Regions from separate parts of the Homo sapiens genome. Here region 2 is linked to region 1. The links come from fine-mapping of genetic effects on gene expression. A gene starts in region 1. The other region holds a variant in brackets. All regions are shown on one strand. Distances are from middle to middle.

Region 1 (15,709 bases):
CTGAGTCCTGGCTGAGCAATGACTTGGCCTGCAGGGATTCAGAATGGGGCTCAGTTTCAAGGACTACTTGTCCCTGTCCCTCTTCTCACTGCATTGAGTTCGGCAGAACCCTCCACAGGGTCACTCCTTGCCCTTGGTTGGCCATGTCTCTTGCCCTCAGAGACCCTCTGGCCAGCCAAGTCCAATGCTCTGCTCACTGGACTCCCGAGCCAGCCTGCACGTATGTGAGGACGGAGGTGGGCTGTGGTGGTGGGGTCTGCTTGCATGCTGGCTTTGCCCCACTTGTGCTGGGAGAGGCTGGGGAGGGCATGGGGAGGTCAGGGAGGAAGTGGGGCTTGGGGTTGATAAAGATGCAGATAATAACTTCCGCCCTTTCAGTCTGAGGGTATTGTTGGTTTTATTATAAGCAGTGGCTTACACACACACAGAAAGAAAACCATAGCTAAAGTGCCAAAGCATGACACTGTGGAAAGCCAGCGCCTCTTTCATTTTTCAGGCAAGGAACCAAGGCCTAGAAAGGTGGACTGATTGGCCGGGTGTGGTGGCTCATGCCTGTAATCCGAGGACTTTGGGAGGCCGAGGTCGGCGGATCACCTGAGGTCAAGAGTTTGAGACCAGCCTGGCCAACATGGTGAAACCCCGTCTCTACTAAAAATTAAAAAAAATTAGCTGGGCATGCTGGGGCTCACCTGTAGTCCCAGCTACTCGGGAGGCTGAGGCAGGAGAATCGCTTGAACCCCGGAGGCGGAGGTTGCAGTGAGCCAAAATCGCGCCACTGCACTCTAGCCTGGGCGACAGAGTGAGACTCTGTCTCAGAAAAAAAGAAAGGTAGACTGATATGCTTGATGGTGCATGACAAGGTGGTGACAGCAGGGCTGAGATTGGAACCAGGTCCCCTGGATCCCTGGGCCCCTGCCAGAACCTGAACAGGAACTGGGAAGGACAGTGAGGACCCAGTGGGACCGTTTCAGAAACTGGCAGTGGTGGCAGGGAGTCCCCAGAGGGAGGACTGCTGAGCCCCAGCTAACTGTGATATTTCTGCAGGGTAAGGATTTGAACTGGGGGAGTGGCAGTGGACAGATAAGAAGCACAAGGTGTGGCGTCTGGTCAGTGTGAGTCCTCAGCAGTCAGGGATCCCTCCTCCTGCTGTTTCCCTCTGAGGGAAACTGAGGTGCTGGTCAGAATTTCTAGGCTGAACTAGGGACAGTACGTGAAGGCATCCCTGCAGAGGAAGGCAGATGTGTCTCCCCAGCTCCAGGTGACCCTCTGGCCCCTCCAGGTGAAGCCACTTTAAGGCTCCACTCAGGATGGATCGGTCTCTTGCTGCGCCTCTGGGCCATCGTTCCCAGCCAGGGGGTGGACCCAGCTGCCCAGGGAGCCCACATCACACAGGGTGCTGCCTGTGGTCATCCTGCTGAGGCTGTGGGAGCTGTGGCGGGGTCTGAGGCGATGGCAGCAGGCCCCGAGGCACAGGGCCTCCTGGAAGGTCTCTCGGAAGCGGCTGGACATGAGGCTATAGAGCACGGGGTTGGCCGCCGAGCCCAGGTAGAAGAAGATGCCGGAGATGACGTGCACGTGCTGGAAGGCCAGGTGCAGGCCATCTGTCCACTGTGACACGACGCTCCACATGACGCGGTCGGCGTGGAACGGGGCCCAGCAGATGCCAAACACCACGACCAGGACAACTGCAGGGACAGAGAAGGGAGGCCGAGTGCCCGCCCGAGGCCCCTCAGCTGCCTTCCCGGGCTTCAGTTTGGGTCACCCATTTTCACATCCTCTCCTATCCCACAGGCCACCCTCACCTATCACCCAGGTGGAAGTTTCTGGAAATTTGCCTGTTCTGGCCATGCCTCTCTCAGAGAGGCTGCCCTCACCATGGTCACTGACTGTGGGCAATGGGGCATATCCCTGCCTCTGACCACAGCCAACTGGACCAGGTGTGGACACCTAAGCCCAGCCGGCCCAATCAGATTCTCTCACCCTGGAATATGAAATTGGGTGACACTTAGCTGTGGCTGTTGAGCTTCTGGGGTGATACAAGCTGTGGGGCTAGGGCCACTCTGGATGCCCACTTGGGGGCCATGCTTGCTGATGCATAAGTACAGAAAAGAAGAATGGGGCACGTGCTCAGAGAGCGGCAGACCGGAGGTCATGGGGCCAGGGAGAGTGAGACACACACACGCATGCACACACACACACATGCATGCACACACACAGACACACACATGCACACACACACACACTGCCTGCCTTGGCCCCGGCCTTTTCAGCTCCAGCCCCCAGCTCCCCAAGGCCCATCTGAATGTCTTGCCCTGCACTAACCTGCCCCCCATCTTACTTGCCAGGCCCTTGCCCACCCCCTCCCTAACAAAAGGTAGGAGAGTTTGGCAAACCTTCACTTTCTCCCCAAATCCCTCCTGCCTTGTTCTTACCCAACTATGCCCTTCCCTGGGTCTCTGCCACAGGGTCAGCTGTGATTTTTGTTCCTTGTTTCTTGGGTTTGCTGCTGCAACTCACTAGCTTTCCTGGGCAGTGTCTTCCCCATCATACCCTAGCATGGTTTTCCTCATAATCCCAGATTTCAAAAAGGACGTTGCTCACAACCTCCCTGGCCCCTGGCCTGGTGCACAGAGGGCCAGCGGAAAGTGGACAAGGGAGGGAGGGAGGGAAGAGAGAAGGCCAGCAAGCAGGAAGCCCACCTTCCAGGGGTGAGCCACCCCAGCTAAGCACCTACTGCAGACTCTGCCCACCCATGTTTTCAGGGAGGGGACGGGGTAGTAGGCAGGAGGCAGGGCGGCAGTGGGCAGCTGGTCCTGAGCACAGGCTTCACCGTGCAGAGCTGGGAGGCATGCACATAGCTCTGGGGTCAGCCTCGTTTCAGGAGCTGCACAAGAGACTGAGCTCTGGGACGGTGTCTGAGGGGTGAGAGGAGCGAGTCACTCTGGAGATGGGGCGGCCCCCAGTTAGCTGGCTCTGTCCAAAGTCTCAGTGGCCCTCTGCTGACCTGGCTCACCCCACTGGCCTGATTCAGGCTCTGCTGAGGTGGGGCTGAGCTGGGATGCAGGTAGGTGGATGGGGCGGATCTTTGATCGGCTTAGTATCAGTTTGTCTTGCTTCCCCAGGGCCACAGCTTTTGAAAAAGAGCCAGGTCCAGGCCACAGAGATCCAGAGCCTCATCCCAGTACCTTAGCCTGCCCTAATCCGCAGGCCTCTGGCCTGATCCCCTGTGCCTTGAGCCCGGCCTTCACAGACACGCCTCGGGATGGGGCTGTTTAGACAAATGGTCTCTCCTGCGGTTCCCAGGGAACCGCAGACATGGCATGGGGGAAATTCAGCACCTGGCCTCTCCAACACCCTCCTCCCCTTCTCTGGGGGACTTTGCTCCCCCCAGATCTCACTGTGTAGTTCCACTGGGGGCTGTGCACCTCGGCATCCTGCCACTCTGGCTCAGGAGGTGGGGCATGACCTAGGCCACGCCCATCAGAATCCTTCTTGGGATTTTTCACTCATCTCTAAGGAAAGACAGCAGTTCCTCAGGAAAGAAGATGGCGTGCCGGTGGCCATGCCTCACAGGCTGCTGCCGAGAAGAACAAGGCCAAGACACGTTAATAACCAAAGAGAGCCGGGTGCAATGGCTTATGCCTGTAATCCCAGCACTTTGGGAGGCTGAGGTGGGAGGATCACTTGAGACCAGGAGTTCAAGATCCGCTCTGGCAACATAGTGAGACCCCGTCTCTACAAAAATGAAAAAATTAGCTGGGCATGGTGGCACCTGCCTGTAGCCCCAGCTACTTAGGAGGCTGAGTGAGGTAGGAGGATCGCTTGAGCCTGGGAGGTTGAGGCTGCAGTGAGCCGTGGTCACACCACAGCCTGAGTGACAGAGCAAGACCCTGTCTCAAAAAAAAAAAAAAAAAAAAAAAGAAGAGGAGAGACCTGAGACCTGGAGGGTCCAGATCCCATTTTCTGTCATCCTGGAGCCCAACCACATGCCCTGCCCTTTCTGTGTTTTGGTTCCAGAGCCAGGGCCCCAAGTTTAGCAGGGTCCTGGGCTTGGTTTAATGCTCTGTTGTTGCTGTCTTGACATTCTTATTCATTTTTGAAAAAGGGACCCTGAATTTTCATGTTGCACTGGACTCCACAAATTACACAATCTTACCGTTAGCCATTAACAGGTATTTTTGGTGTAAGATTCTAGTAGGGTAATCTAAAAGAGTACACAGGAGTGCAACTCAGACACACACACACACACACACACACACGAGACTAGAGGAGTTCCTCGTCCCCCATAAACCCAGATACTCAGCCCCTTCTCCCAGGCCCCAGGAGCCCCAAACTCATACCCAGTGCCTGGCTCAGCCCCTCTTCCCAGCCGTGACACTTACACAGCATCTTGGTCACTTGTCTCCGGCCCCGATCGTGCTGCTGGAGCCTGCAGGTGTATCTGGACCTGGCTGCTGCAGAGCCCCTGCCCTTGGCCTCCTGCATGAGCAGCAGCCTCTCCCGCCGCAGTCGCAGCCCAATGAGCAGGTAGAGCACGCTCATGATGGCCATGGGCAGGCAGAAGAAGAGCAGCGCGGTGGTCTGCACTACCATGTTGTAGAGGGCCCGTGGGCGGACCAGCATGCAAACAGCTGAGTCTGGCACTGGGCCCCGGCAGGGCACGTGCAGCTGCCGGATGCCGTGCAGGCTGGTGTTGGGCAGGGAGCAGAGCATGGCAAGACCCCAGACGGCCCCAAGCACTCGGCGCACATGGGCCCGCGTCACCATGGACCTGGCCTGGAGTGGGTGCACCACGGCCACATAGCGTTCCACGCTCAGGGCAGTGACGTTGAGCACTGAGGCCAGGCAGACCATCTCAAACAGTAGCGTGCGGAAATAGCAGCCACCAACGCCCAGCAGGAAGGGGTAGTTGTGCCACATCTCATAGAGCTCCAGGGGCAGGCCCACCAGCAGCACCAGCAGGTCCGACACGGCCAGGCTGAAGAGGTAGTAGTTGGTAGGCGTGCGCATGGCCTTGTGGCGCAGGATGACCAGACAGGTCAGCCCATTGCCCACAGCGCCCACCACGAAGATCAGCAGGTATGTGGCACAGATGGGCATGAACAGCTCTGTCTGCTGGGGCCCCAGGTACTTGAGTCTCAGTGCCTCGTCAGTCAGGTTCAAGTCCTCAGGGTCAAAGTGCCCCCTGGCCGCACTGCCATTGCAAGCCATGGGGTTCCTTGCACCCCCTGGGTACAGGTCTCCAGGGAGGACAGAGCAATTGAGGCAGAGAGGAGTCTGTGGAACAGAGGGGAGAGATGCCCAGAAAGATCATTCAGGGAATGCTGGCTCTGTCCTCACTCATCAAGCCAAAGGTGACATTAGCGCTATGATGACCATTATTTTAGGCACCACTGAGAAAGAAAAAACTCTTCCATCCACAAGTCAGAGATGTAAAAATAAGCTTGGTGCAGTGGCTCACACCTGTAATCCCAACACTTTGGTCGAGGCAGGCGGATCACTTGAGATCAGGAGTTCAAGACCAGCCTGGCCAATATGGTGAAACCCCGTCTCTACTAACAATACAAAAAGTAGCCGGGCGTGGTAGCACACGCCTGTAATTCCAGCTACTTGGGAGGCTGAGGCGGGAGAATTGTTTGAACCCAGGAGACAGAGGTTGCAGTGAGCGGAGATTGTGCCACCGGACTCCAGCCTGGGCAACAGAGAAAGACCTTGTCTCAAAAAAACAAAAAGCAAACAACGAAAAAGTAAAAATCTACATTTAAAAAAAAAAAAACACGTGGGGTTTTGATTTTAAATTTCATGATCTATTGGAACCTTTGAGTAAATGACAGATCTTGGGTGTCTCCTCTTTCAAGCAATGATGCTAGATGAGGCACTCGTTTGGGCATCTGTAAAATGGGCACAATGCCTGGTATTGCAGGGTCTTCAAGAGCAAGCGCTCAGGAAGCAACTGCCTGGATTCGAATCCAGCCTCCCCAGTTCCAGGCTGTGTGACCTTTAGCGAGGTAACCTCTCTGAGGCTGTTTCCCTATTAGGAGGATCCAGGGAGTTTAATCCATTAAAGACATTAACACAGGGCCTGCCTGGCATACGGAAGGGCACGGGGATCACCCCCTTGCTCTGGGGACCCAGTCACTATGAGAGTCAAGTGAGGGAGTGTCAAGGCTACACACTACAAATGCTTCATCCACAAGTTGATTCTTTTTTCTGTTTTCTGTCACCTGAACTGTTCAGTCTCCATATTTGACGCCCTTGGCACTGCCAGTTCTGGGGTTCCCTCTCCTCTATTGAGCCCCACACCCTTCCTCCCGCCCGCCCTCACCCCCGCTGCACAGCAGCGCGGGAGCCTCGGGAACCAGTTGGGAACGCGCAGGCGCCAGCCCGGGTTCAAGGGAGGCGCCCTGGTCCTCGAGGAAGGGTCGCAAGCCCGCAGCCCCCCGGCGCCCCTGGCCGGAAGACACAAATGACCCGAGAAGTTGCGAGGCTCCCCGGTGGCGGGGACGGGGGGCACCCCGACGGAGCCCTCGGACCCTTCCCGCCCTAGGACGACCCTGCCCGCACCGAGCCCCGGCCCAGCTGCCGCGCCCTAGCCCACGCCGGCGCCTGCGCACCTACCATGCGGCCCGCGGCCCGCGAGACCCCGGCTTCCACCCTCCGAGCGACGGACACAGACGCGGCGCGGGAGCCAGTGGACTGACTGACAGCGGCCCCAGCCCGCGCCCCGACGCCCCGCCTGTCCGGCCGGGAACGCCGCCAGGGGGCAGTGCAGTCCCCGCAGCCCGGGCGGCGCCCCCTCCCGCACTGGCGGAGGACGCGGCCGTTGGAGGCGACACCTCCACAAGCAGCGTGGAGGCGACACCTCCACAAGCAGCGTTATCTGACGGAACCCTCACAACAACCCGTTTTACAGATGAGAAAACTGAGCCTCAGAGAGCCGCAGAGGAGGAGCCCGAGAGACCTGGGGCTCACATGTGATTCCCGCCCTCCAGCGTGCTGAGTTTAGCTTAACGCCGTCACGGTGTCCCTGCGGCCTCCAGCTCCTCCTGCCCCCCATTCAGACCCACCTCCAAGGACAGGGACGGCCCACCAGCCCCTTGAAGTCGACATGCCCCGGTGCGGTTCATCCTCCCAGGCTCCAGGCCTCTTCTTCTGTCCCAAGGCCCATGATTGCAGCCTCCGCAGCCCCTCTCACCCGCTGCTCCCTTCGGGGCCTCCAGTCCCTGAGTCCAGGCGCTCGGCCCTGCAGGACTGGGCAAGAGCCCCCTATTCTCCCTCCAGTCCATCCTCCCACAGCCACCAACGACCATCACCCCCTCGAAACCCTTCCTTGGGGCCCCCCCACTGCCTTCTGAAAAAGAGCACACCAAAGTCTAGCCTGGGGGTGGACCTCCCCACTCCTCACCTGCCTCCCTGGGCCACCCTCTCCTCACCATTGTCCTCAGCCCCAAATACTGTCCCCCTTATCCGTTCAAATGTTCTTCTGCCCCCATCACTGTACCAAGGGTGGGGGTATAGACAAGGATGGAGGGAATTTAGGGAAGGGTTAAGAATGCCCAGCCACAGCCTCCTGCTCCCCCACACTGCCCACATGCAAATCCCAGTGCCTCACCTGCTCCCACTCCCTAGTCCTGCAATCAGCTCCTTAGCTGGAAGCTGTTTCATCAGAAACTTCTAGGGACCCTAGAAATGACGGATCACACAGAGTAAAATGCTGGTTCCGGGGCCTTTGCCCAGAGTTTTGTCTCCTTAGCCTGGGCAAGGCCCAGAAATCCTCATGTTTGACAAACGCCCTCTGGAGAGCCCCATGCCCCAGAATCACACTGAGGAGCACCAGGAGAGGTTACAAAGCCACAGGACCCCGAGAGGCCACCGTGAGCTCAGAAGCTCTGTGTGCCTCAGTTCCCCTTCCTGTAGAATGGGCTAACCACCATCGCCACTATTGTGAAGGTGACATGAGACACTGAGCGTCAAGATTCAGCACAGGGGCTGGCACATGGCCAACACTCAAGAAATGTGGGGTGGGATTGTCACCATTTAGTGGCAACTGGAGGCTCCTCCTTCCCCCCGCTTTCCTGCACCCTCCTCCTCCCCACTGCCCCCCAATTCCATAAGTCACTGTCTGGGCTTGGGGATGGGAGTTAGGCCCTCAAGGAGCCTGCACCAGGCCGGCCTTCCCAGGAACTCCACATGTAAACAGAGTCCCAGGCAGGGGACGGTTGTGGGAAGTGCAGGGGCACGTGGTCCTCAGGGCCTTGGGAGAAAGGATTCTGTGGTGCCCTGGGAATTAACTACTCAGCCCCTGATGAGCTAGTCCAGGAGAAATCCTCAGTAACAGGGCTGCCAGCACAACAGACGGGCAAGGAGGGATGACATCACTCAGCATCAGAGACCACTGTGGCATCACAGGCTGCTCTTAGCAAGTGAGGAGCATTTGGACCCCAGCCCTTCACTGGAACACACACACACACGCACATGCATGTACACACACATACACACACATGCATGCACACATCACTCTGCACATACCACACCACACACACGCGCACACACATACCACTCTGCACAGACTCTGAGCAGTCCGAAAGTCCCCGTGGACCCTTTGGTTCACACAGCCCTGGAGGGGATGGGGAAGGACCCACCTAGCCTTGCAGAGGCAGAATGACTCTTGCCAGTCAGGAATTCCTACAGCGGGTTGCATCATTCACATAACATTAGCAGCCATCAAAGGCTAAAGAGCAGCCCCCAAAAAGGAGAGGCTCAGTGGCCACAATGGCTGTGGCCCTCACTTCCGCACTGTGCAGAGGGCCCTAGGGGCCCTGGCCTCCGGGCCTGAGCTCAAGGCCACCACGGTAGTGTCCCATCAGAAACGTATGACATCCTGCTGCTCCTGCTCCGTCCTGAGGTGGCACCCCCCAGTTTTCTGGGTGTACACATCCATCTAAGCTTGGCTGGTGGGCGTCTGCCCAGATGAGGGGGCCAAGGACCCAACTCTGCACAACAGCAAATGCATTCAGGGAGGGCCACTGGGACCTCCAGGAGCTGCTGAGATACCACCCAAGTCCCAGGCGTGTGCAGGACTCATGGGGCCAGAGGCATGTGAGTAGCTCCGTATCCCCTCCTCATCCTGCTGAGTCCCTGAGAGCCAAGAGGGGCTGCTTAAACTCAGGCCAGGCTTAAACCAGAACCTTCTCAGCCTTGGGCTGACCCGCAGCTCCTGGCAAGCCCATGGTTCCCCCAGAAACGCCCCAACCCCACCCCACTTACTGCCTACAGAGGGGAGGCAGGGAGGATGAGATGAGCTTGGGGACACTGTAGCTCTGGACAGGAGGGAGGCACTGTTCTGCAGCCTGGGCAATGGGGATCACCCAGGACCCCCATCACTAGGCTTCATTGGGCAAACATGGAGAACAAGAACAGTAAATATCCGAAGCAAGGGAGAGTCGCTGTACCCATCTGGGCACCTCCCAAGGTCAGAGAGCTCCCTACCCAGCTCTGCTCTGTGGGGTCCCAGCCTGGCCATGGCCAGGAGCTAGAGGAGGATGGTCTGGGCCCCTCAGGTGATGGGGTTCCGAACTTGGGGGCTGGGATTGCACCTCAGGGAGCCACGTGGCTTTTGTGTGATCATGCACCCATGCTCCCTGAGCCACCAGCCCTGGTCTGCTCACAGAAACTGGTGGGAGAGATGGTCAAGCCAGGCAGGGAACATGGTGAGTACAGGCTTTGGAGGCTGTGAGGCCAGAGTGAGACTCCGCATTCTGCCAGCGTGGCCTCAGATAAGCCACTTTGCGCTTCAGGCCTCAGCTTCTTTGCCTGTAAAACACAAACATAGCCCCTGTCCTTCAGGGATGCCATGAGGATTAAGAGTGATAATGTGGGTTTAAGCACTCAGTGCAGGGTTGAAGAGCCTGGAATTCTCTGGAAGATACCAGAAAGCTGCTGGGAGGCAGGGCTGGGGTGGGAGCTGTCCTTAGTAGGGTTTGGAAGGGCAAGGTCCCCAGCACCCCGGGAAGGAGAGCTGAGTCCCAGTGGAAAGGAGCACACAGGCTTGCAGGGAGCCCAGCCACAGTGCAGGCAGTCGGGGCCCTGCAGCCCGGTGGGGACCAGCAGCGGAGGAGACCTCCGGGGAGCATCGCCCCTGCCTCTCCTGCTCCTAGAGGGGACCACTGGGGACTGTCTAGCCCCTTGCCCCCTGAGGGCTGTGAGGCCTGTTCCTGAGCTCTCCCAGAGACAGCCAGCTCACAGGCTTCAGGCAGGGTGCTGGGCACAGGGAGCCGGTCACCTCCTCACAGGGGCTCAGCCTGTGTACCAGGCCCCAACCTCCGCTTGTGGCCAAAGGGAGGACATGTTCAAGTCACACAGTGAGAAGGCCAGAAAAAGCCTGTGTCTCTCATGTCTAGGGCCTGTGTGTCCCTCATGCCACCCTGGACTGGGGCCAGATCTTATTGTGTGCCCACAGGGTGCTCCTGGCACCTACTCCTCCAAGCAATAAAGGCCACCCTCAAGTCCACCAGCCTTCCCAGCTAACACACCACACTTGGGTGTGTTACAGAAGCTCCTCTTGGGGTCTTCCCATTTATAAATTCTCATAGTCATGATCAGAGGGAGGTTTCAGAACAAAAGTTTCTCCCCCTGCAACAGGTGACCAGCATCAGGACTCAGGAACTTGTTAGTCTGCAGCAGTTTGCTGTGTTTGATTTAGTAGTTTTTTTTCTTTTCCCTTTTAACTTTTTTTTTTTTTTCTGAGACAGAATTTCACTCTTGTTGCCCAGGCTGGAGTGCAATGGTGTGTGTGATCTCAGCTCACTGCAACCTCCACCTCCCCGGTTCAAGCAATTCTCCTGCCTCAACCTCCCAAGTAGCTGCTATTACAGGTGCGTGACACCACACTAGGCTAATTAGTAGAGACATGGTTTCACTATGTTGGTCAGGCTGGTTTTGAACTCCTGACCTCAGGCGATGCATCCACCTTGGCCTCCCAAAGTGCTGGGATTACAGGTGTGAGCCACCGCGCCCAGCCCTGACCTTTTTAACCTTTTATATTAGCATTATTTCATACCTACAGGAAAGTTGAAAGAATAATACAAAGGATTCCTATATTTTTGGGGGACTATGAGAGTCAGTTGCAGACATAATGCTTCTTTACCACTAAATGCTTCTGTTCTGGTTGAGTTTAGAAGTGTTCTATGAATACCATTAGTTCCCCCTGTCCAATAGGCAGTAGCCTACCAGGGAGTAGGTGTTAAGGAGGCAGTCCGCCTGGCAGGAGTAATATTTTATCACCAACATTGTTTAGAATCACTGGCACATCGTGCCACTTTTTAAAAAGCAGGCCACTTTTAGTCAGTTCAACAACTCTTTTCCAAACCTTCTCCATTATTGCCTGTTCCCAAGGCAGGCTGCTGCCACAGCCAATAGATACTAAAGCAGTAAATATTCAGAGTGCGAGGAAGGTCAGCATTACAAAGGGAATAACATTAAATTGGAGGAAATATATCAAAGAACCGGAAAGTGGTGATGAAATGACAGTGGTGCATGCATACGGAATGCGTCTTTCTAGGGTTGGGGTGTTCTTAGGAACAAAGACTGAATCAGGAGGTAAGTACACAGTGCTGGGCCTATCAACAGCAACTGCTGGACACAGGGAAAGGGGACCAAAGGCAGGTGCACTGAGGGTGTGTGATGGAGGAGCGGGCACCAGCATGGGCACAGTTGGCCTAAAGCTAAGAGAAGGCCAGGTATGTGAAGACTGAAAGACAGGGTGCCAGAAGATCCTCCTGTTGAATTGTTTTTTTGTTTGTTTGTTTGTTTTTGTTTGTTTTTTTGAGACAGGGTCTCACTCTGTCACCCAGGCTGGTGCAGTGGTGCGATCTCGGCTCACTGCAGCCTCAACCTGCCTGGCTCAATCGATCCTCCCACCTCAGCCCCTCAAGTAGCTGGAACTACAGGCATGCACCACCATGCCTGGCTAATTTTTGTATTTCTTGTAGAGACGGGGTTACACTATGTTGTCTAGGCTGGTCTTGAACTCCCGGCCTTAAGTGATCCACCCACCTCGGTCTCCCAAAGTGTTGGGATTACAGGTGTAAGCTACTGCAACAGGTAAGGATCTTGGTTTTCAAAAATCAAAACTGGCTCCAGCTGATTTAGGCCGGATTTCCTGAAAAACATCCGGCAGCTCACAGAATCAACAAGAAGGCTGGAGGGGCAGGGAGACGGTGGGGCTGCAGCTAGAAGGGTTGGCACTGTGACCCGGCATCCCGTGGACACTGGCCCCAGGCTGGGACCATGTCCCCGCCTTTTGAAGCACTTGCCCTGGACCCCCTGCCCCGGGGTGAGAGACAGGATGCTACAAAGTCAGGTCCTGCTGCTGCACTCTCGCTGCATGGGTGGGGTGAGCATGGGTCTTGCAGCCTTCTGGAGGGGAGGAGGGGCAGATTCCCCACCCAGTGGGTCATCCACAGCCCCTGGCAGACAGCCCAGGTGCCAAGCAGCCAGAACAAACCACAGATGACCCTGCCACTCAGGGATTCAAGCCCTTGTCAAAGGCACCCAGCCTCAGAGAGGGTGGCAGACGGCTAGTGTGAGCACAATGGAGTCACAAGGCATTGTGAGACCCAGGGTTGGGGGACAGCTTGTCCCAGCAGGCTTATAAGGTTGGCAAAACCATTTTGCAAAAAGATGCCCAGGAGAACTTTAGCATCTGTTTATGACTTTTTTTTTTTTTAAGACAGGGTCTTGCTTGTCACCCAGGCGCTGGAGTGCAGTGGTGCGATCACGGCTCACTGCAGCTCTGACTTCCCAAGCTCAGCTGATCCTCCCACCTCAGCCTCCTGCGTAGCTGAGACTACAGGCACACACCACCATGTCCACTAATGTTTCTATTTTTTTCGTAGAGATGAGGTTTCACCATGTTGCCCAGACTGGTCTCGAACTCCTGTGCTCAAGGGATCTACCCACCTCGGCCTCCCAAAATGCTGGGATTACATGCGGGAGCCATCGTGCTTGGCCTGTGTATGATTCTTGTATGCATAAATTATTACTATGATGGTCTGCCAAATGGTGATTCTAAACCCCATCATCCCTTCATTTCCGAGCTGACTGTGACTAGAAGGAGAAACTTCCTCTTATCACTTTTATTTATATCCATGTGGACCCATGATTTCTTATTCTATTCAAAGGATACTAATTCATTATCATTATTTGTGTTGATGTTCAGATTTGTCCCAGATTTGACCAGTGGGAGCCCCTTCAAGTTGGATCGTATATCCTTTTGATGTGTCATTATGAATATTTTGTATTTTCTGGCACAATACAATGTTCTAGGCTCATCTCCTATTTCTCTGGGCTATCCTGGAATAAGCCATTTTCCAAGGAGCTCTGGCTCCTTTAGTGGAGAATGATGGAAACCAAGATCAGCCGGGCACAGTGACTCACGCCCGTAATCACGCCTGTAATCACGCCTGTAATCCCAGCACTTTGGGAGGCCGAGGCGGGCAGATTGCTTGAGCCCAGGAGTTCAAGACCAGCATGGGCAACTTGGTGAAACCCCATCTCTACCAAAAATACGAAAACTAGCCAGGTGTGGTGGTGCATGCCTGTAGCCCAAGCTACCTGGGAGTCTAAGATGGAAGGATCACCCAAGCCCAGGAAGTCAAGGCTGTAGTGAACTATGCTTGTACCACTGCACACAAGTGTAGGGGACAGAGCAAGACCCTGTCTCAAAAAATAAATAAATAAATAAATAAATAAAGGACAGGCATGGTGGCTCACACCTGTAATCCCAGCACTTTGGGAGGCCGAGGTAGGTGGATCACCTGAGGTCAGGAGTTCAAGATCAGCCTGACCAACATGGTGAAACCCCGACTCTACTAAAAATACAAAATTAGCAGGGCATGGTGGCGCTTGCCTGTAATCCCAGCCACTTGGGAGGCTGAGGCAGGAGAATCACTTGAACCCCAGGAGGCAGAGGTTACAGTGAGCTGAGATCACACCATTGCACTCCAGCCTGGGCAACAAGAGCGAAACTCTGCTTAAAAAAATATATATATATGTAATAATAGTCATGAGATCTGGGTCAGATCTGGTGGTAATGAAATCAGTGCTCAAGATCTGGGTGCTGAGTGTGCTCATTACTGTTGGGTTGTTGCTGCTCCCAGACCCTCCAGTGGGCAGAGCTAGGGAATATATGTATGTATAAATATATAGATATATACACACATACTATATATACTGTATGTATACACACATATATATTGATACTTTTTTTTTTTTTTGAGATGGAGTTTTGCTCTGTCACCCAGGCTGGAGTGCAGTGGCATGATCTCAGCTCACTGCAACGTCATCTCCCGGGTTCAAGCGATTCTCCTGCCTCAGCCTCCCAAGTAGCTGGGATCACAGGCACCTACCACCACATCCGGCTAATTTTGTTTTGTTTTTTTGGGTTTTTTTTTGTTTGTTTGTTTGTTTTTTTAGTATTTATTGATCATTCTTGGGTGTTTCTCAGAGAGGGGGATGTGGCAGGGTCATAGGATAATAGTGGAGAGAAGGTCAACAGATAAACACATGAACAAAGGTCTCTGGTTTTCCTAGGCAGAGGTCCCTGCGGCCTTCCACAGTGTTTGTGTCCCTGGGTACTTGAGATTAGGGAGTGGTGATGACTCTTAACGAGCATGCTGCCTTCAAGCATCTGTTTAACAAAGCACATCTTGCACCGCCCTTAATCCATTTAATCCTGAGTTGACACAGCACATGTTTCAGAGAGCACGGGGTTGAGGGTAAGGTTATAGATTAACAGCATCCCAAGGCAGAAGAATTTTTCTTAGTACAGAACAAAATGGAGTCTCCTATGTCTACTTCTTTCTACACAGACACAGTAACAATCTGATCTCTCTTTCTTTTCCCCACATTTCCCCCTTTTCTTTTCGACAAAACCGCCATCGTCATCATGGCCCGTTCTCGATGGTCGCTGTCTCTTCGGAGCTGTTGGGTACACCTGCAGAAAGGCTGTCACTTCACACTTGGAAGATTGCACAGCAGCCAGGCAGAGGCGCTCCTCACTTCCCAGACGGGGCAGCCGACGCCCGGCTAATTTTTGTATTTTTAGTAGAGACAGGGTTTCAGCATGTTGGCCAGGCTGGTCTCAAACTCCTGACCTCAGGCTATCTGCCCGCCTTGGCCTCCCAAAATGCTGGGATTACAGACGTGAGCCACTGCACCCAGCCTGATACTTATTTTTATATCTATCTATAAATGTTGAAAAGCATGCACTGACATCAGTACCTGTAATTCCAATTTGACACCACAGCATTCATCCCTACGACACCTCCCTGAGAGGAAGAAACTCGTCTTCTGTTATTTTCGCCATATTTCCTCTTTGGGCCAACCTCCTCAGTGTGTAATTCACCTTCCGTTGCTACCATCACTGCCCCTACCAGACCCCTCCTAACCTAATCTGAATCCTCACTCTGAGCTGTTGCCCACTCACTGCATAGACACACTTCTCATAGCACCCAGGCTCCCAGGTAGAAGGAAACACGCTCCATCACTGTACATGGGAATGACAGCATTTCTAGAGGACAAGTTTAGCAACAGCTACCAATATATAGAAGTCTATCCTTTTGGCTCTGAAACTTTACCTGTAGAAATTTACAGAAAAAAATAGTAGCTCAGGCCAGGCACAATGGCTTACACCAGTAATCCCAGCACT
Region 2 (15,709 bases), 120 kb before region 1:
TCCTAATTATTGGACAATACTGTATAGCTAGAGAAGGGAAAGACTTTATCGTCCCTGTAGAAAAGCTTAATTGTATAGGACAGAAGTTGTACAACAGCACAACAAAGACAATTACTTGGTGGGGCCTAAACCACACTGAAAAGAACCCATTTAGTAAATTTTCTAAATTAAAAACTGCCTGGGCTCATCCAGAATCTCATCAGGACTGGACGGCTCCCACCGGACTATACCGGATATGTGGGCACACAGCCTACATTCAGTTACCTAATAAATGGGCAGGCAGTTGTGTTATTGGCACTATTAAGCTGTCCTTTTTCTTATTACCCATAAAAACGGGTGAGCTCCTAGGTTTCCGTGTCTATACCTCCCGAGAAAAGAGAGGCATAGTTATAGGAAACTGGAAAGATAATGAGTGGCCCCCTGAAAGGATCATACAATATTATGGGCCTGCCACATGGGTACAAGACGGCTCATGGGGATACCAAACCCCCATCTACATGCTCAATCAGATCATACGGTTGCAGACCGTCTTAGAAATAATTACTAATGAAACTGGCAGAGCTTTGACTGTTTTAGCTCGGCAGGAAACCCAAATGAGGAATGCTATCTATCAGAATAGACTGGCCTTGGACTACTTGCTGGCAGCTGAAGGAGGAGTTTGTGGAAAATTTAACTTAACCAATTGCTGCCTACAAATAGATGATCAAGGACAGGTGATTGAAAACATAGTCAGGGACATGACAAAGTTGGCACACACGCCTATACAGGTTTGGCACAAGTTTGATCCTGAGTCTTTATTTGGAAAATGGTTTCCAGCTATAGGAGGATTTAAAACCCTCATTGTAGGTGTATTGCTAGTAATAAGAACTTGCTTGCTGCTCCCCTGTGTATTACCCTTGCTTTTTCAAATGATAAAAGGTATTGTTGCTACTTTGGTTCATCAGAAAACTTCAGCACACGTGAATTATATGAATCACTATCGCTCTATCTCGCAAAGAGACTCAAAAAGTGAGGATGAGAGTGAGAACTCCCACTAAAAAGTGAAAATTCTCAAAGGGGGGAAATAGGGAATGAGACCACCACTTCTCCTGTTGTCCTTCCCAGCTTCTCCCCAACCTCCCCTTTTCCCTAGTTTATAAGACGGGAGAAAAGGGAGAAAGCAAAAAGCTGGAAAGAAACAGAAGTAAGATAAATAGCTAGACGACCTTGGCGCCACCACCTGGCCCTGGTGGTTAGAATGATAATAATAATATTAACCCCTGACCAAAACGACTGGTGTTATCCGTAAATTCCAGACATTGTGTGAGAAAGCACCGTAAAACTTTTTGTCCTGTTAGCTGATGTGTGTAGCCCCCAGTCACGTTCCTCACGCTTACTTGATCTATTATGACCCTTTCACGTGGACCCCTTAGAGTTGTAAGCTCTTAAAAGGGCTAGGAGTTTCTTTCTCGGGGAGCTCGGCTCTTAAGACGCGAGTCTGCTGACGCTCCCGGCCGAATAAAAACCTCTTCCTTCTTTAATCTGGTGTCTGAGGAGTTTTGTCTGCGACTCATCCTGCTACACTGCTATTTCTCCCTCCTCAGCACAGGTCTTCCCACAGTTCTCTCTTGGCCAGCCGGCTGCATAATTTGCAGAGCCCAGTGCAAAATGAAATTACAGGACCCTGGTTTTAAAAAGGTATTAAGAATTTTAAAGGTCAGGCTCACGCCTGTAATCCCAACACTTTGGGAGGCTGAGGTGGGAGGATGGCTTGAGCCCAGGAATTTGGGACCAGCCTGGGCAACATAGAGAGACCCCTGTCTCTACAAAAAAAAAAATTTTTTTTTTTTGAGACAGAGGTCTCATTCTGTCGCCCAGGCTGGAGTGCAGTGGTGCGATCTCAGCTCACTGCAAGCTCTGCTTCCCAGGTTCGCGCCATTCTGCTGCCTCAGCCTCCCGAGTAGCTGGGACTACAGGCACCCACCACCACGCCTGGCTAATTTTTTTCTTAAAAAATTTTAAAATTACCTCAGAGTGGTGGCACGCACCTGTCTGGGGCCAAGGTTGCCAGAGATTGCCTCGGGATGCTGAGGTGGGAGGATCCCTTGAGCCCAGGAGGTCGAGGCTGCAGTGAGCTGTGATCGCATCACTGCACTCCAGCCTGGGTGACAGAGCGAGACACTGTCTCAAAAAAAAAAAAAAAAAAAAAAAGAATTTAAGATTGCCACAGCAGAGCATTGAGCATTAAACCAAGTGCTGGGAGCTTCTGAGGGAGGCCTGCGACTGTGATGCCAGCCCTATTTGCCCCTCCTCATCCTCAGAAGCCAGGTCCTGCTCTGGGCTGCAGAGAGGGGATTGGGGCTCACAGTTCAGCATGGGAGAGGGCAGCCCAGGGACACCCAGAAAATGGAGGTGTACAGGCCACAGGACCCAGGCCCAGGTGGAGGCCCAGAGACGGTTATGGGTTCAGCTGCCCCTGAAGGATGAGGCAGAGGGAACCACATATACCAAGGGCTGCTGGGAGCAGGGTGGATGCATTCTGAAGCGGAAAGGAGCTCCTCTCGGGGCTGGACCTGGGGTGAGAGAAGGGGTGGGAGGCTGGGAGGCAGGCAGGGCAGTTTCTCAGGTCTTCTAGGTTCAGGAGTACTTTAACTTTATCCTGAGCACAAAGGGACAAAGAGCAGGGGTTCACGGCAGCCTGAGGGAGCAGAGGGCAGTTTTGAGGCACCTCCACCCCTCCCTCTGGCGCACTTTGGCCCATTCTGGCCAGCTCCAGTGGGGCCCCACTCTGGAAAATCAGGCATTTAGTTTTGCTTCCTGGTAATGATAACAACTGACATTTTATGGAGCACATTTCATATGCCAGGCACCCTGGTAAACATTTAACGTGTAGTCAATATGACTTTAACTCAGGGTACAAATATGGTTACTTTTTAATTTTTCTCATTGATTGCTCAAATCCCTCATGTACCATTATTGGCAGAAAAATCCAATATCAGCCTCTTGGAACCCACTCTCAAATTGTCCAAGAACCTCAGGGATTTCCCTCCTCCAAAGAGAGGGTTCTCTGGAAAGTCTGAGCAGTCATCTCCAGTTGTTCCCTCTCTCTCCACACAGGGGCGCTGTGGAACAGCGGGCCTGCACAGTCCTGTGGCTTCTGAGGCTTGGCTACCTTCACTGCACAGGCTGCGGTGGGGCCTATGCTTCCAAAACAAAGTTACCCTTCTCTCAGTCACCCTCACAAGCTCAACGACCTTTCCCCAGAGAGCAGCAGCATGCCAGGGGTGCTGGGTCCTGTGGCCCCCCAGTCAGCTACACAGTCTGTGGGGGAATCCCACAGACTCAGGTTCTCTCTGGCCTGGTGAAGCAACTTTTTAGACAGTAGATTTTAGTTGGTCCCAGGGTCTTAACTCTTTCCTCCTCAAAGGCCCTGGCTTTGCAAAATGGTTCCCTCCTCCCCGGCAACTGGCTGTGCATTCCAAGGGGCCTTGAAAAGGGGTAGCCTTTGTCAGTCCTCAAAAAGTCCAGTTCCACTCTTCCCCCAGGGTAATGGGTGCCTACTCAGCCACATTTACATAACTAAAGGAGACCACTCAAAGAATCCTACTCTTAACAAAGAAAGCTGTTCCTAGGTGACTTATTCTGTGCACCTAAACTGAGAAGGAGCAGGGGGAAGCTTCTGGAATCCTGTTATACACCATGTTCAAAGTAAGAAATGGAGGGCTCTAAGAGAAGGATCCCACGGCTATTGTGTGACAGGCACGATTTGAACTCTGTGCCCTGCACACCTAACCCCCATACTCTACTGTCTCCCAAGAGCCTCCAGCCTCCCATCCTTTTTCCTTAGCAGTAACTTAGTCACAAATATCTGTGTTTGTTGTTTCTGTCTAAAAGGAGGAAAATGTTATGTCCAATGAGCGATTGAAACTGTGATGGTTGGGGGAGCCCAGCGTTATTAGGGCTGTAAGAAATAAATGTTTCCAGAGAGTTATTTAAGCTATTGTGAAGAAAAACTTTTCTGTTCCAGTGAAACACTATACATTATCTAAAGCACAGCCAGACCTGTCTGCTTCCAGCCCCATTCACGGTCTTTGAGCTATTTTGCACCTCTTTTTAAGTTGCAAGTACTGAGGGCTTTGCAAACTGTCTTGTCAGGTGAAGCTTCCATTGACTTCTCTTCCACCCCCCACCAACACCCCCACGGTGGAAAAACCAGTTTGCCGCTGTTTGCAATTCAATTCCTTCACTCCATATAAATTTGTGCTTTTTGATGTCTCCTTTGAACCAGATATAACATCTACCTTGTCCTTTTTATGAGTAAAATAAATCTTTAATACATGCTCATTTTTTATTTCTGAACAAGGGTCATGAATCTACCTTTTTCTGAAAATTGTCTTTTACCAATTGCCTTTATGTGAAAATGAACACAGATACATTATCGAACAGAATGCAATTTTTGCTTATATTTCTAAAACAAAACTTGAATCTTGGAATACATTGTATACTCACTGAAGACCCTTCCAAAGTGAGCCAAAGCTTAGAGCTCAATCCTTTTAGAGGGTTTTGCCCCCCGGGAATTTGAGAAAATATCTAGTCCAGATCGCAACCAGACAGAATGAATCCGAATGAGTGAGTGGGTGGGGCGCGAGCCCAGGCATTTTTTATCGCTCCCAGGTGACTCAAGTTGGGAACTACCGGCCTGGGCTGGGATTGACTGACCCTGCCGTGCAGCCTGTGACCTATCACAAATCACCTTGGCTTTGTTTTTCCTCGGTGCGGCCGAATCCCACAGGAATGCGTGGAATCCCTGCCCTCACCCATGGCGAAGCTGCCCCCCTCGGGCTCCGCCTGCCCCCCGCGGCTCCTCGTCGCCGGGCAGCCAGGAGCTGCTGGGTGGGCGCGGGCGTCCCGGGGCGCGGTGCGACCCAGAGCCCCTCGCGGAACCCGCCTGGGCTGTGCAGGGGACAACGCGTTCGGCTGTCGAGGGTGGGGGAGCCCTGTGTGTGTGGTGGGGGTGGCATCCGATGGATCCCGGGGGCCTGCGGAGGAGGTGGGCATCTCGGCGCCACCCGGTGCGCGCCCCGAGCGAGGGCATCTCCCCTCGAGACCAGCCCGCGGAGCTGCGCGAGGCGTGGGGTAAGGCGGCGTAGACCTCCCAGTGCCGGCTGCAGGGCCGCGGGTCGGGGCGGGGCCCCGCGAGGAGCAAGGGGCTGGCCGGGCTGGAGGGCTGGGTGAGTCCCCGCCCTGGCAATCCCAGAAGAGGGCAGGGAGCGCCCCCAACTGACCGCCGGGGGCATCGTGACGCTGAGGTGGATGGGAGACTGCACGATTTGAGCAGGTTGTGTGAAATCTGGAACTCCATTACTTGTACCCCAAGGCATCTTTTTTATGCGGATTTAAGCTGGAAAGCGCCACACCAAGCTGTTAACAGGAACTGCTTCCTGGCACTGAGATTCCAGGGGCTGCTCGTTCCTTTCTCTGGCTCATCTGTGTAAGGAAGACTTTCCTCCGTGAGCCTTTCCACCAAGCTCAGGCCTGAGGCTTAGGAGAAATGTGCGAGATCCCGACAGCCTCGGAGGGAGTGAGGGGGCTTCGAGACCCTCAGGGCCACCTTAGGGGCCTCTACCAGGGAAGGAGAAATGATCTTGTTTCACCGGCCAGGGAGGTGAGTGCAGCCCCTTCAGGACCTCAAAAATCCCTACTGGGGGCCCACCCTCAGAGGCCTGGTGAGGTCAGAACTAAGGCCTTGGATAGCAGGATACAGTTTGCTGTTCTAATTGTTTAGTATCTGATCTCATAGACAAATGACACAATAATCATTTTTTCATAAAATCTTAATATATAAAGCCAACGATGGTAAGGATATGTTTGGTTTCAAGTGACATGAGATTCTGCTCAGTTGGGCTTGGTGGCTCGCACCTGTAACCCCAGCACTTTAAGAGGCCTAGATGGGCAGATCGCTTGAGCTCAGGAGTTTGAGACCAGCCTGGCAACATGGTGAAACACCACCTCTACAAAAAAGTACAAAAATCAGCCAGGCATGGTGGCATGAGCACCTGTAGTCCCAGCCACTGAGGGTTGCGGAGGGGAGCTGAGATGGGAGGATCCTGGGAGGTTGAGGTTACAGTGCCCATGCACTCCAGCCTGGGTGACAGAATGAGACCCTGTCTCAAAAAAAATAATAATAATAAAAAGAAGGAAAGAAAAGGAAAAAAGAAAGTCTGCTCGAACTGGTTGCGACCAGCAAGGAGATGTGTGGGCTCACAGAAGTGAAAGTACAGGGATGCCTGCCTCAGGGGCTGATGCAGGACAGAAATATAAAACAGCCACTCCCCATACTGGAGCTGCCTAGCTGGAAAGGGGCAGGTTGAGATTGCTCTCAGGTGGCCTGACTGCAAAAGCTGCATGTTAGCCACCACTCAGACACGTGCTAGGGTCTGGAGGATGGAGGCAAGTCTGGAAACAGCTGCCTGTCCACCATGACTGCCTGCAATTTGTTAAGACCACCTGCAATTTGCTAAGCGCTGATGGGGAGGCCAGGCTCAGCTCAGATAGCTCAGCTCCCGCAGACCTAGTCGAATGTTTCTTGCTAGATTTTATGTATTTTTGTAACCAAATGCTCCCATTTTTTCTAAGAAAAACGGAATGAATTACTTTTTTTTTAATTATTATTTTCTATTCTCTCCCCTTTCCCTCCTTCCCGTTTCCTACTCAGCCCTTCAGAAATGCAAATGTAACCGTTCACCTCCCCCTAGACATTCCCTTCAGGGTAATTCCCTTCAGGGCAATTTCTTCAACGGCTCCAAGACAGATCTTTTCCTTGAGAGCTGACAGTCGATTTGCTGACAGTTGATTTCCAGACTGAAGCGTACCTGCCACGGAACTTTTACCTCCATGGGGTGACCTTAGAACTTCTGCTCTGCAAACTGGAAGTGACCTTCATCCTCCAGGAGGGTATGTCGAAAGCATTCCCGCTTGGCCACTTTTACAAGTTATTTCTGCCTGGGAAGGCACCAACTCAATTATCCAGTAGATAAGATACGGGGCAACAGGGGAACGCCTGCCTTGCATACTTGCTCACCCCCGACCTTATAAAAGTGTCCATGTTACTGCTCCAAAGGTGAAGCAGCACATGTAAAGGCAGGACGCGTTGTGTCCCTTCCCCAAGCTACCTTTGGAATACATTCACTTTTCTTACACCAGACCTCGCGCTTGTTCATTGGACTCTGCATGCGATGAGCAACTAACCTGCTTTTCAGTTATGCTTTGGAGCCATGTTGTTTAGCACTTAGAAAATAGAGGTGGGTCTGGGCGCGGTGGCTCATGCCTATAATCGCAGCATTTTGGGAGGCCGAGGTGGGTGGACCACTTGAGGTCAGGAATTCAAGACCAACCTGGCCAACTTGGTGAAACCCTGTCTCTACTAAAAATAGAAAAAATGAGCCCAGCATGGTGGCACATCCCTGTAATCCCAGTTACTCGGGAGGCTGAGGCATGAGAATTGCTTGAATCCGGGAGGTAGAGGTTGCAGTGAGCCGGCATCACGCCACTGCACTCCAGCCTGGGCCACAGAGTGAGACTCCATCTCAAAAACAAAAAAAAAAAAAAAAAAAGAAAAAGAAAATAGAGGGTGTCTGATAAAAATGTACCTTCTCTAGTGTGCAGCACAGTAAATCCAGCACCCCAGAGATGTCCTGCCTGGCTCCCTGGAACCC[G/A]TCTGTGCACATGATGAGATGTCACCTCTGTAATTAGCTTAGGTTACATGGCACAATTAGCCTTAAAATAGGGAAATATTCTGGGTGAGCCTCATCTAATCCCATGAGACCTTAAAAGCAGAGAGCTTTCTCCCACTGGTGGCAGAAGGAGAAGTCAGACTAGAAGCAGAATTCACATGCCATTGTTGACCTGAAGACTGAGGGACAAGGTGGCAAGGAATGATAGCAAATTCTAGAAGCTAACAGCAGCCCCTGGCTGGCAGCCAGCAAGGAAATGGGAACTTCATACTGAATTCTGCCAGTAATAGAAATGAGCTTGGAAGAGGACCCTAAATTCCAGGGGAGGGATGCAGCTGGACAGAGAACCTAGCCATGCTGTACTGGTCTCCTGACCTGTGGGACTGTGGCAAAATAAATGGATGTTGTGTTAAAAAGAAAAAACCTAAACACTCAGAAAAAAAGAAAAATGTTGGCAGTACAAAGAGATATTGCCAGAAACACAAATATAGTGAGTCTTTAACATACTATTTAACAACCTAGAAGAGATTTAACTTACCAAAATCAGAGACATCAGGCCAGACAGGGTGGCTCACGCCTGTAATCCCAGCACTTTGGGAAGCCAAGTGGGTGGATCACTTAAGGCCAGGAGTTCAAGACAAACCTGACCAACGTGGTGAAACCCCATCTCTACTGAAAATACAAAAGTTATCCGGGTGTGGTGGCATGCACCTGTAATCCCAGCTCCTTGGGAGGCTAAGGCAGAAGAATCTCTTGAACCCGGGAGGCAGAGGTTGCAGTGAGCCTAGATTCCACCACTGCACTCCAGCCTGGCCTGGACAACAGAGCAAGACTCTCTCAAAAAAAATAAAAATGAAAATAAACCAAAGACATCAAAGACCCAAACAATACCATGAGTAGTTTGAATCAAAGATCTGTATCAAATTCTGTACCACACACAGCTTGTATCTTCTTTTTGCATATGAAACCTTTACCATGTATGTGTATTAGAAGGAAAGACAACATCAACTATCCCCCAAGGCAGAAATTAAACAGGCCAAACTCTATGTCCACAATATACGGTAAATCAGAAATTACCCACAAAATTAAACCAAACAAGAACAATGACAAAAATCCTAGCCTGTTTCTTAAATAACTGTTGAGTCAAAGAGAAAGTAAAAACTATAATGGTTCATTGTTTTGAAATCGGGAAGACCACATAATTATATTTAAGGGAATAATGTCAGTTTACCTCATTTTGACTTCAAGGGGTGTTACGTGTCAGGCCTTGGGCTTAAGGCTGTAGCTGCTGAACATTGCCCAATTTAACAACTATAAATGCATTCATTATTGTAAAAATAAAAATAAAAACAAGTGAACTAATGTTTCAACTCAACATTGCACGAGAAGAATTTTATTTTTATTTATTTATTTTTTTGAAACAGGGTCTCACTCCATTGCCCAGGCTGGAGTGCAGTGGCACCATCTTGGCTCACTGCAACCTCTGCCTTCCAGGCTGAAGAGCTCCTCCCACCTCAGCCTCCCCAGTGGCTGGGACTATAGGCACGCCCTCCAGGCCTAGCTAATTTTTATATTTTCGGTAGAGATAGGGTTTTGCGATGTTGCCCAGGCTGGTCTCAGTCTCCTGAGCTCAATTCATCTGTCCACCTCAGCCTCCCAAAGTGCTGAGACTACAGGCACGAGCCAGCACGCTGGGCCAGAAAAGAACTTTATTTATTTATTTTTTTTTGAGACGGAGTCTTGCTCTGTCACCCAAGCTGGAGTGCAGTGGTGTGATCTTGGCTCACTGCAACGTCCTCCGCCTCCTGGGTTCAAGTGATTCCCCTGTCTCAGCCTCCTGAGTAGCTGGGATTACAGGCACCTGCCACCACACCCAGCTAATTTTTGTATTTTTAGTAGAGACAGGGTTTCGCCATGTTGGCCGGGCTGGTCTTGAACTCCTGACCTCAGGTGATCTGCCCGCCTCGGACTCCCAAAGTGCTGGGATTACAGGTGTGAGCCACCACGACCAGCCCAGAAAAGAACTTTAAAGCAGAGTAAAACAAAACCAGAAAAAAGAAATAATAAAGACATAAGAGAGATGAGTCAAATTTAATGAATTTGAAAGGAGTAGATAAATTGTCGGTTATTTTTTTAAAAAAGCATTAAAATAGCTAAACCTATGCCAAATTTAATGAAAGACAAGTGTAATTAGCAAGTTAATTAAATGCAGTTTAAAGTGTAAAAGTATAAGAATTATAATTCATATATGAATAGATTTTTAATTTTTTATTCTTAAAATTAATTTTTTTTTTTTACAGAGTCCTGCTCTGTCGAACCAGGCTGGAGGGCAGTGGAGCGATCATAGCACACTGTAGCCTTGACCTCCTGGGCTCAAGCGATCCTCTTGCCTCAGCCTCCTGGGTAGCTAGGACTACAGGCATGTGGTACCACACCCTGCCATGAGTAGATTTTAAATCTTGTTGAAAAGTATGTGGCCTGAGCAACATGGAAAAACCCCATCTCTACTAAAAATACAAATATTGGCCAGGCATTGTAGCATGCACCTGTAGTCTCAGCTACCTGGGAGGCTGAGGCAGGAGAATTGCTTAAACCCGGGAGGCAGAGGTTGCAGTGAGCCGAGATTGTGCCACTGTACTCCAGCCTTGGTGACATAGTGAGATTCTGTCTCAAAAAAAAAAGAAAAGTATGGTTCAAATAAACAAAAGGAATAGAGTCAAAAAGAAAGGAAGCCAGGTGTGGCACACACCTGTACTCCCATCTATTAGGGAGGCTAAGGTAGGAGGCTCACTTGAGCCCAGGAATTCAAAGCTGCAGTGAGCTGTGACCATCGCACTGCACTCCAGCCTGTGCGACAGAGCCAGACCCTGTCTCTAAAAATAAAGAAAACCCATATGCTCTCATAATCCAGGAACAATTGGAAAGAGTTATCAGTCACCTTCCCAGAGTCTCTGGAGACCATTTGGGCAGTAAGTTCTTTCAGGCAGTAAGGTCTTTCAAACTCCCAAGAAACAACTAGTTCTAGCCTATGAGCCCATTTTTGCCATGGCAAAAAATGACAAGCTCTCCAATTCATTGTATGAAATTAATATAACACTGATCCCAAAGCCAGCAAATAGAGCACAGTTAAATTACCCCTGAATCCCACAAACTGCATTGTAGCCAGAAGCCGCCTTGCTATCCTGGTCTCATAGCTTTCAGGTATTTGGCTCCTCATTTGTTCCTAAATCCTACTGACAGGGACATGAGGCGGGAAAAAAAAAAAAAAAAAGAATCTGCCAAAGATGGCCGGACTTCAGGGGAAGATTACCTACCCCACATCCCCCTTAACAGCTCCCCTTCCCACTGAAAGCCTTTTTTTTTTTTTTTTTTTTTTTTTTGAGAAGGAGTTTCACTCTGTCGCCCAGGCTGGAGTGCAGTGACACATGCCCTCCAGGCCCAGCTAATTTTTGTATTTTCGGCTCACTGCAACCTCTGCCTCCCAGGTTCAAGCAATTCTCCTGCCTCAGCCTCCCGAGTAGCGGGGACTACAGGCACGCGCCACCACACCCAGCTAATTTTTGTATTTTTAGTGGAGATGGGGTTTCACCATGTTGGCCAGGATGGTCTCCATCTCTTGACCTCGTGATCCGCCCGCCTCAGCCTCCCAACGTGCTGGGATTACAGGTGTGAGCCACGGTGCCCAAACCGAGCCATTTTCATTGGCAATAAAATCTCCCACATTTACTATCCTTCAATTCGTTCGTGTGACCTCATTTTTCCTGGATGCCGGACAAGAGCTTAGGAGCCACAAGTGTGGATACGAAAGGCTGTCACACTGGCCCTTCGCCCTCGCTAGCAGAGGGCAGCCATGGGCCCACTGAGAGCTGTTAACACTTAAGCCGTCCGTGGACAGCAGAGCTAAAAGAGCACTCTAACATGGCCTCCGGGGCCCCGGGAGTCGCAGGCACCCTGCCTGGACGCTGTTGTGGGGCCTGAACGAAGTTCACTGCTGCCGGCGCCCAAAAGCGCTCGCTCCAGCTCCTGCACCTGCTCAACTGTGTGCTCCCTTTCACGAGGGTCGGAATGCGGTGGATCTGAGAGAGTGGAGTCTGATCCCGCCCGCACTGAAACAGCTGGCTGGTTCCAGCACTCCTGCGCTCCAGTTCCCGCCTCGTTTGCTGTGTGCTCCCTCCCACCAGCAGTTGAGAGCAGTGGGCTAAGTAAACTAGGCACCCCTGTCCAAAGTCCTGAGAAGGGCTCAAGGAACTATCCTGCTTCACTATTGATCAGTGGTCTCCCTGTCAGGGGCAGATCCGGCCTTCTCTTCTCAAATTATCCTGGGTGATAATACCCATTGGGTTTGTCTCCTGGGTGATTCCCTCCACGGCTGAACCTCACCCACTACCTTCTCGTCAGTGTCATTGACTCTGCACACAGGTTACTGTTGCTCACCCACCACTGGTGCCTCTGACCCTTCTAGGACCATCTAGGTTCCCCCTGAGTAACTCAGGGGCATTGCTGACCAGCTGTGGACCAGAAGGCTCCCTTAGGGCACGTGCTGCATGGTAGGGCTAACTGTGGCTGTCCCCCAAGACCTGTGGGGTCAGGCCCTTCCCTCTGATGTTGGGGTTGGGGACCTTGCAGCGGAGTCAGAGGGAGAAGCTTCGTGTTCCCTCCACCCCAGGATCCTCCACCGAAGTAAGTAATTTGACACAGAGGAAACCAGATGCACAAAAATTAAAAGGATAAACCGTAATTCAGCTAAAATACCCAAGGGTTGAAATTGCCAAAGGACGTGCAAAATTCAAGGAAAAAAAGATACGAAAGTGGGCCGGGCGCGGTGGCTCACACCTGTAATCCCAGCACTTTGGGAGGCCGAGGCGGGTGGATCACGAGGTCAGGAGATCGAGACCATCCTGGCTAACATGGTGAAACCACGTCTCTACTAAAAAAAATACAAAAAAAAATTAGCTGGGCGCGGTCCGGGCGCCTGTAGTCCCAGCTACTCGGGAGACTGAGGCAGGAGAATGGCGTGAACCCGGGATGCGGAGCTTGCAGTGAGCCGAGATCGCGCCAGTGCACTCCAGCCTGGGCGACAGAGAGAGACTCTGTCTCAAAAAAAAAAAAAAAAAAAAAGATACAGAAGTGAAATAATAAAGGTAAAGGAATGAGATAGCCAGGAAAAGATAAGCCAACTTAAACAGAAAAGCTAGGAGGAGCCAGGTAACTCAGAATGGTAGGTGTGCTAGATTGAACAATGTGTGTCTAAAGTCACACACAAACAAAACAATTTCGACCTATGTGTTTTAAAATTAAAAAACAAGAAGTAGCTGGGCACAATGGCTCACACCTGTAATCCCAACACTTTGGGAGGCCCAGGTGGGAGGATTGTTTGAACCTGGGAGTTCAAGACCAGCCTGGGAGACCCATCTCTACAAAAAATTTAAAAGATGAGCCCTGCGTGGTGGTGCACACCTGTGGTTCCAGCTATCAGGGAAGCTGAGGCAGGAGGATCGCTTGAGCCCAGGAAGTCGAGGCTGTAGTGAGCCATGTTTGCACCACTACACTCCAGCCTGGATGACAGAGCAAGACCCTGTCTCAAAAAGGAAAAAAGAGAAACCAAAAGGACCTCCATAAAACAAGAAGTAGCAGGCAGTTGGGTGCAGTGGCTCACCCTGTAATCCCAGCACTTTGGGAAGCTCCCTTGAGCCCAGGAGTTCCAGACAAGCCTGGGCAACATCGTGAGACTCCATCTCTACAAAAAATTCAAAAATCAGCCAACGCGGTGGTGCACCCTTGTAGCCCTAGCTACTCAGCAGGTTGAGGCAGAAGGATCGCTTGAGCCCAGGAGTTCAAGGTTACAGTGAGCTATGATCGTGCCACTACACTCCAGCCTGAGCAATAGAGCAAGACCTTGTCTCAAAAAAAAAAAAAAAAAAAAAAAGTAGCAGACAAAGAGCATGAGCTCATAAAGGGTCATCTGGACTGAAATCTGGGGGTGAAGGAGAGGGCAGGGCCCCAGCACCCCAGCAGCCTGGACACACTCCTGCGCCAGGTGCAGCCCCCTTTTCAGGGGATGAATGGGGGACTTGTCTTCCTCTGCATTCCTTGACCAGCCTGAGTGCCAGCCTCACCTCACTGGCGCTGGAGGAAAAGCAGTGGCCTACGGAGACCCCAGTCCCAGGCTGGCTCCTGTTCTTGCTCCAGACAGAACTTTTGAAGCCCTTGGTGTTGCTAAAAGTGCTTGTTTCTTGGCCCCGCTCCTCTCACTCTGGGGACTAGGAGGGCTGAGGCTGTTATCCAGGTTGACAGGGACTGCTTTGTCCCTCGGTCAGGGCTCTGTCCTCACAACCTTTCCGGGCCTTCTCAGAGTCTGTGGGCCACCCATTTGGCCACCCACACTGCTGAGGGTCACCGGGCAGAAAATGCGGAGTTTCTGCATTCCATTTGAAGCTGCTTGGTGTTCCGTCTGAACAAACCATGGTGTATTTAACCAGCCTCTGTGGATGGACGGTGCTAGATCAGTCCTTGTTAATGTAACATCACTCCCATCCCCTTCTACATCTCCCTGCATTTCCAGAGCCCCTTTCCAGTATGTCCTAGGCTGAATTCTGCCCATGAAGGAAGCAGAAGCCATTGGTCTCCAGCAGCTACTATGGTTAGGCAGCAAAACTCATGGCAGACTCCTTTCCTCGGCTTCTGGGCATCACCCTGCATGACCCCCACTGCAGTGCTATAAGCAGCTGAGATCCAGCCAGACACAGTGGCTCACACCTGTAATCCCAGCACTTTGGGAGGCCAAGGCTGGCGGATCACTTGAGGTCAGGAGTTCGAGACCAGCCTGAGATCCTTGGTGACAGCTTCCGGCAGCTCCAGGTGTCCCCCTGGGCATCATGTGCTTTGGCCCTGCCAGCACCGAGGATCACTGGTGATGACTTCCCTGCCATCTCCTAACTTCTAGAACTTTCCTGGCCTTTCCTCTCCCAGCCCTTCCAATGCTTCTCTTTCTGCTCAAAATACCTAGAGTGGCTTCTGTTTTCTTGATTGAACCCTGACTGCTACAAACAATACCCTCGCATATCCTGCACATGCCAGGAACACATGCCAGTCTATCTGTAGTATAAGTTACTAGAAGTCAAATTTTCAGGTCAGTTTCAAGGTTGCTGGTGTATTAGTTTGCTAGGGCTGCCATAACAGAGAACCACAGACTGGGTGGCTTAAACAACGGAAAATTTATTTCCTCACAGTCTGAGGCTGAAGTCTGAGATTAAGATGTTGGCAGAGTTAGTTTCACTCTATGGGTGTATGTGTCCAAATTTCCTCTTCTTATAAAGACATCTGTCATATTGGATTAGGGCCCCACCCTAACAATCTCATTTTAACTTAATTCCCTCTTTAAAGACCCTGTCTCCAAATACAGTCACATTCTGAGGTACTGGAGGTTAGGACTTCAGCGTGTGAATTTTGAGGGGATGCAACTCAGTCCATAACAGATAACTAGCTATTCCCAACTCACCCTCCCTGGCAATTGTCCCAAACAGCAGGTACATGAAATGTGTCAGCAAACCTGGTGATCATCACCAATCTAACAGGTAAGAAAATGCACATAGTGTTGTTTTAATTTGCATTTCTCCTACTCTGAGTGACATTAACATCTTTTCATGTGTTTGAATCATTCATATTTCCTTTCCTGAGAAAGATTTGTACAGGACAATTTTCTAGGTGACCTTAAACCAGCCCGGTTCTCCCATCTTTCTTGCTTGTAGTTCTGAAAATTAACTGTAGAATGTGCTAGAAATGCAACATCTTGAGATAAGGGGGAGCTGGCCAGAACTGCTCAGGCTCTGTTCCAGTTCCGCCTTAGAAACAGGGTGGCTCATGCCTGTAATCCCAGCACTTTGGGAGGCCAAGGCAGGCAGATCACCTGAGGTCAGGAGTTCAAGACTAGCCTGGCCAACATGGTGAAACCCCGTCTCTACCAAAAATACAAAAAATTAGCCAGGCATGGTGGCAGG

What was found.
Region 2: its variant is fine-mapped to the expression of NMUR1 in whole blood (TOPMed, PIP 0.93).

Annotation. Positions count from the first base shown.
Region 1 is chr2:231,523,741-231,539,449 of GRCh38, forward strand. NMUR1 (neuromedin U receptor 1) reads right to left here and starts at 6,705. Exons shown (of 3, transcript NM_006056.5): 1 at 6,619-6,705; 2 at 4,383-5,277; 3 at 1-1,685. The coding sequence starts at 6,621. The coding sequence ends at 1,303. LOC105376787 (a long non-coding RNA gene) reads left to right here and starts at 8,430. Exons shown (of 4, transcript XR_001739928.2): 1 at 8,430-9,099; 2 at 10,752-10,874. RefSeq lists enhancers at 2,506-3,007, 4,113-4,640, 4,641-5,167, 7,657-8,391, 11,934-12,435 and silencers at 6,533-6,962, 14,584-14,784.
Region 2 is chr2:231,407,282-231,422,990 of GRCh38, forward strand. LOC124907997 (a long non-coding RNA gene) reads left to right here and starts at 5,015. Exons shown (of 2, transcript XR_007088118.1): 1 at 5,015-5,644; 2 at 6,695-7,183. RefSeq lists enhancers at 3,127-3,732, 3,733-4,337, 6,432-7,192, 7,193-7,952, 11,159-11,660 and 1 more and a silencer at 4,882-5,221. The variant G/A (reference allele first, on the strand shown) is at 7,695.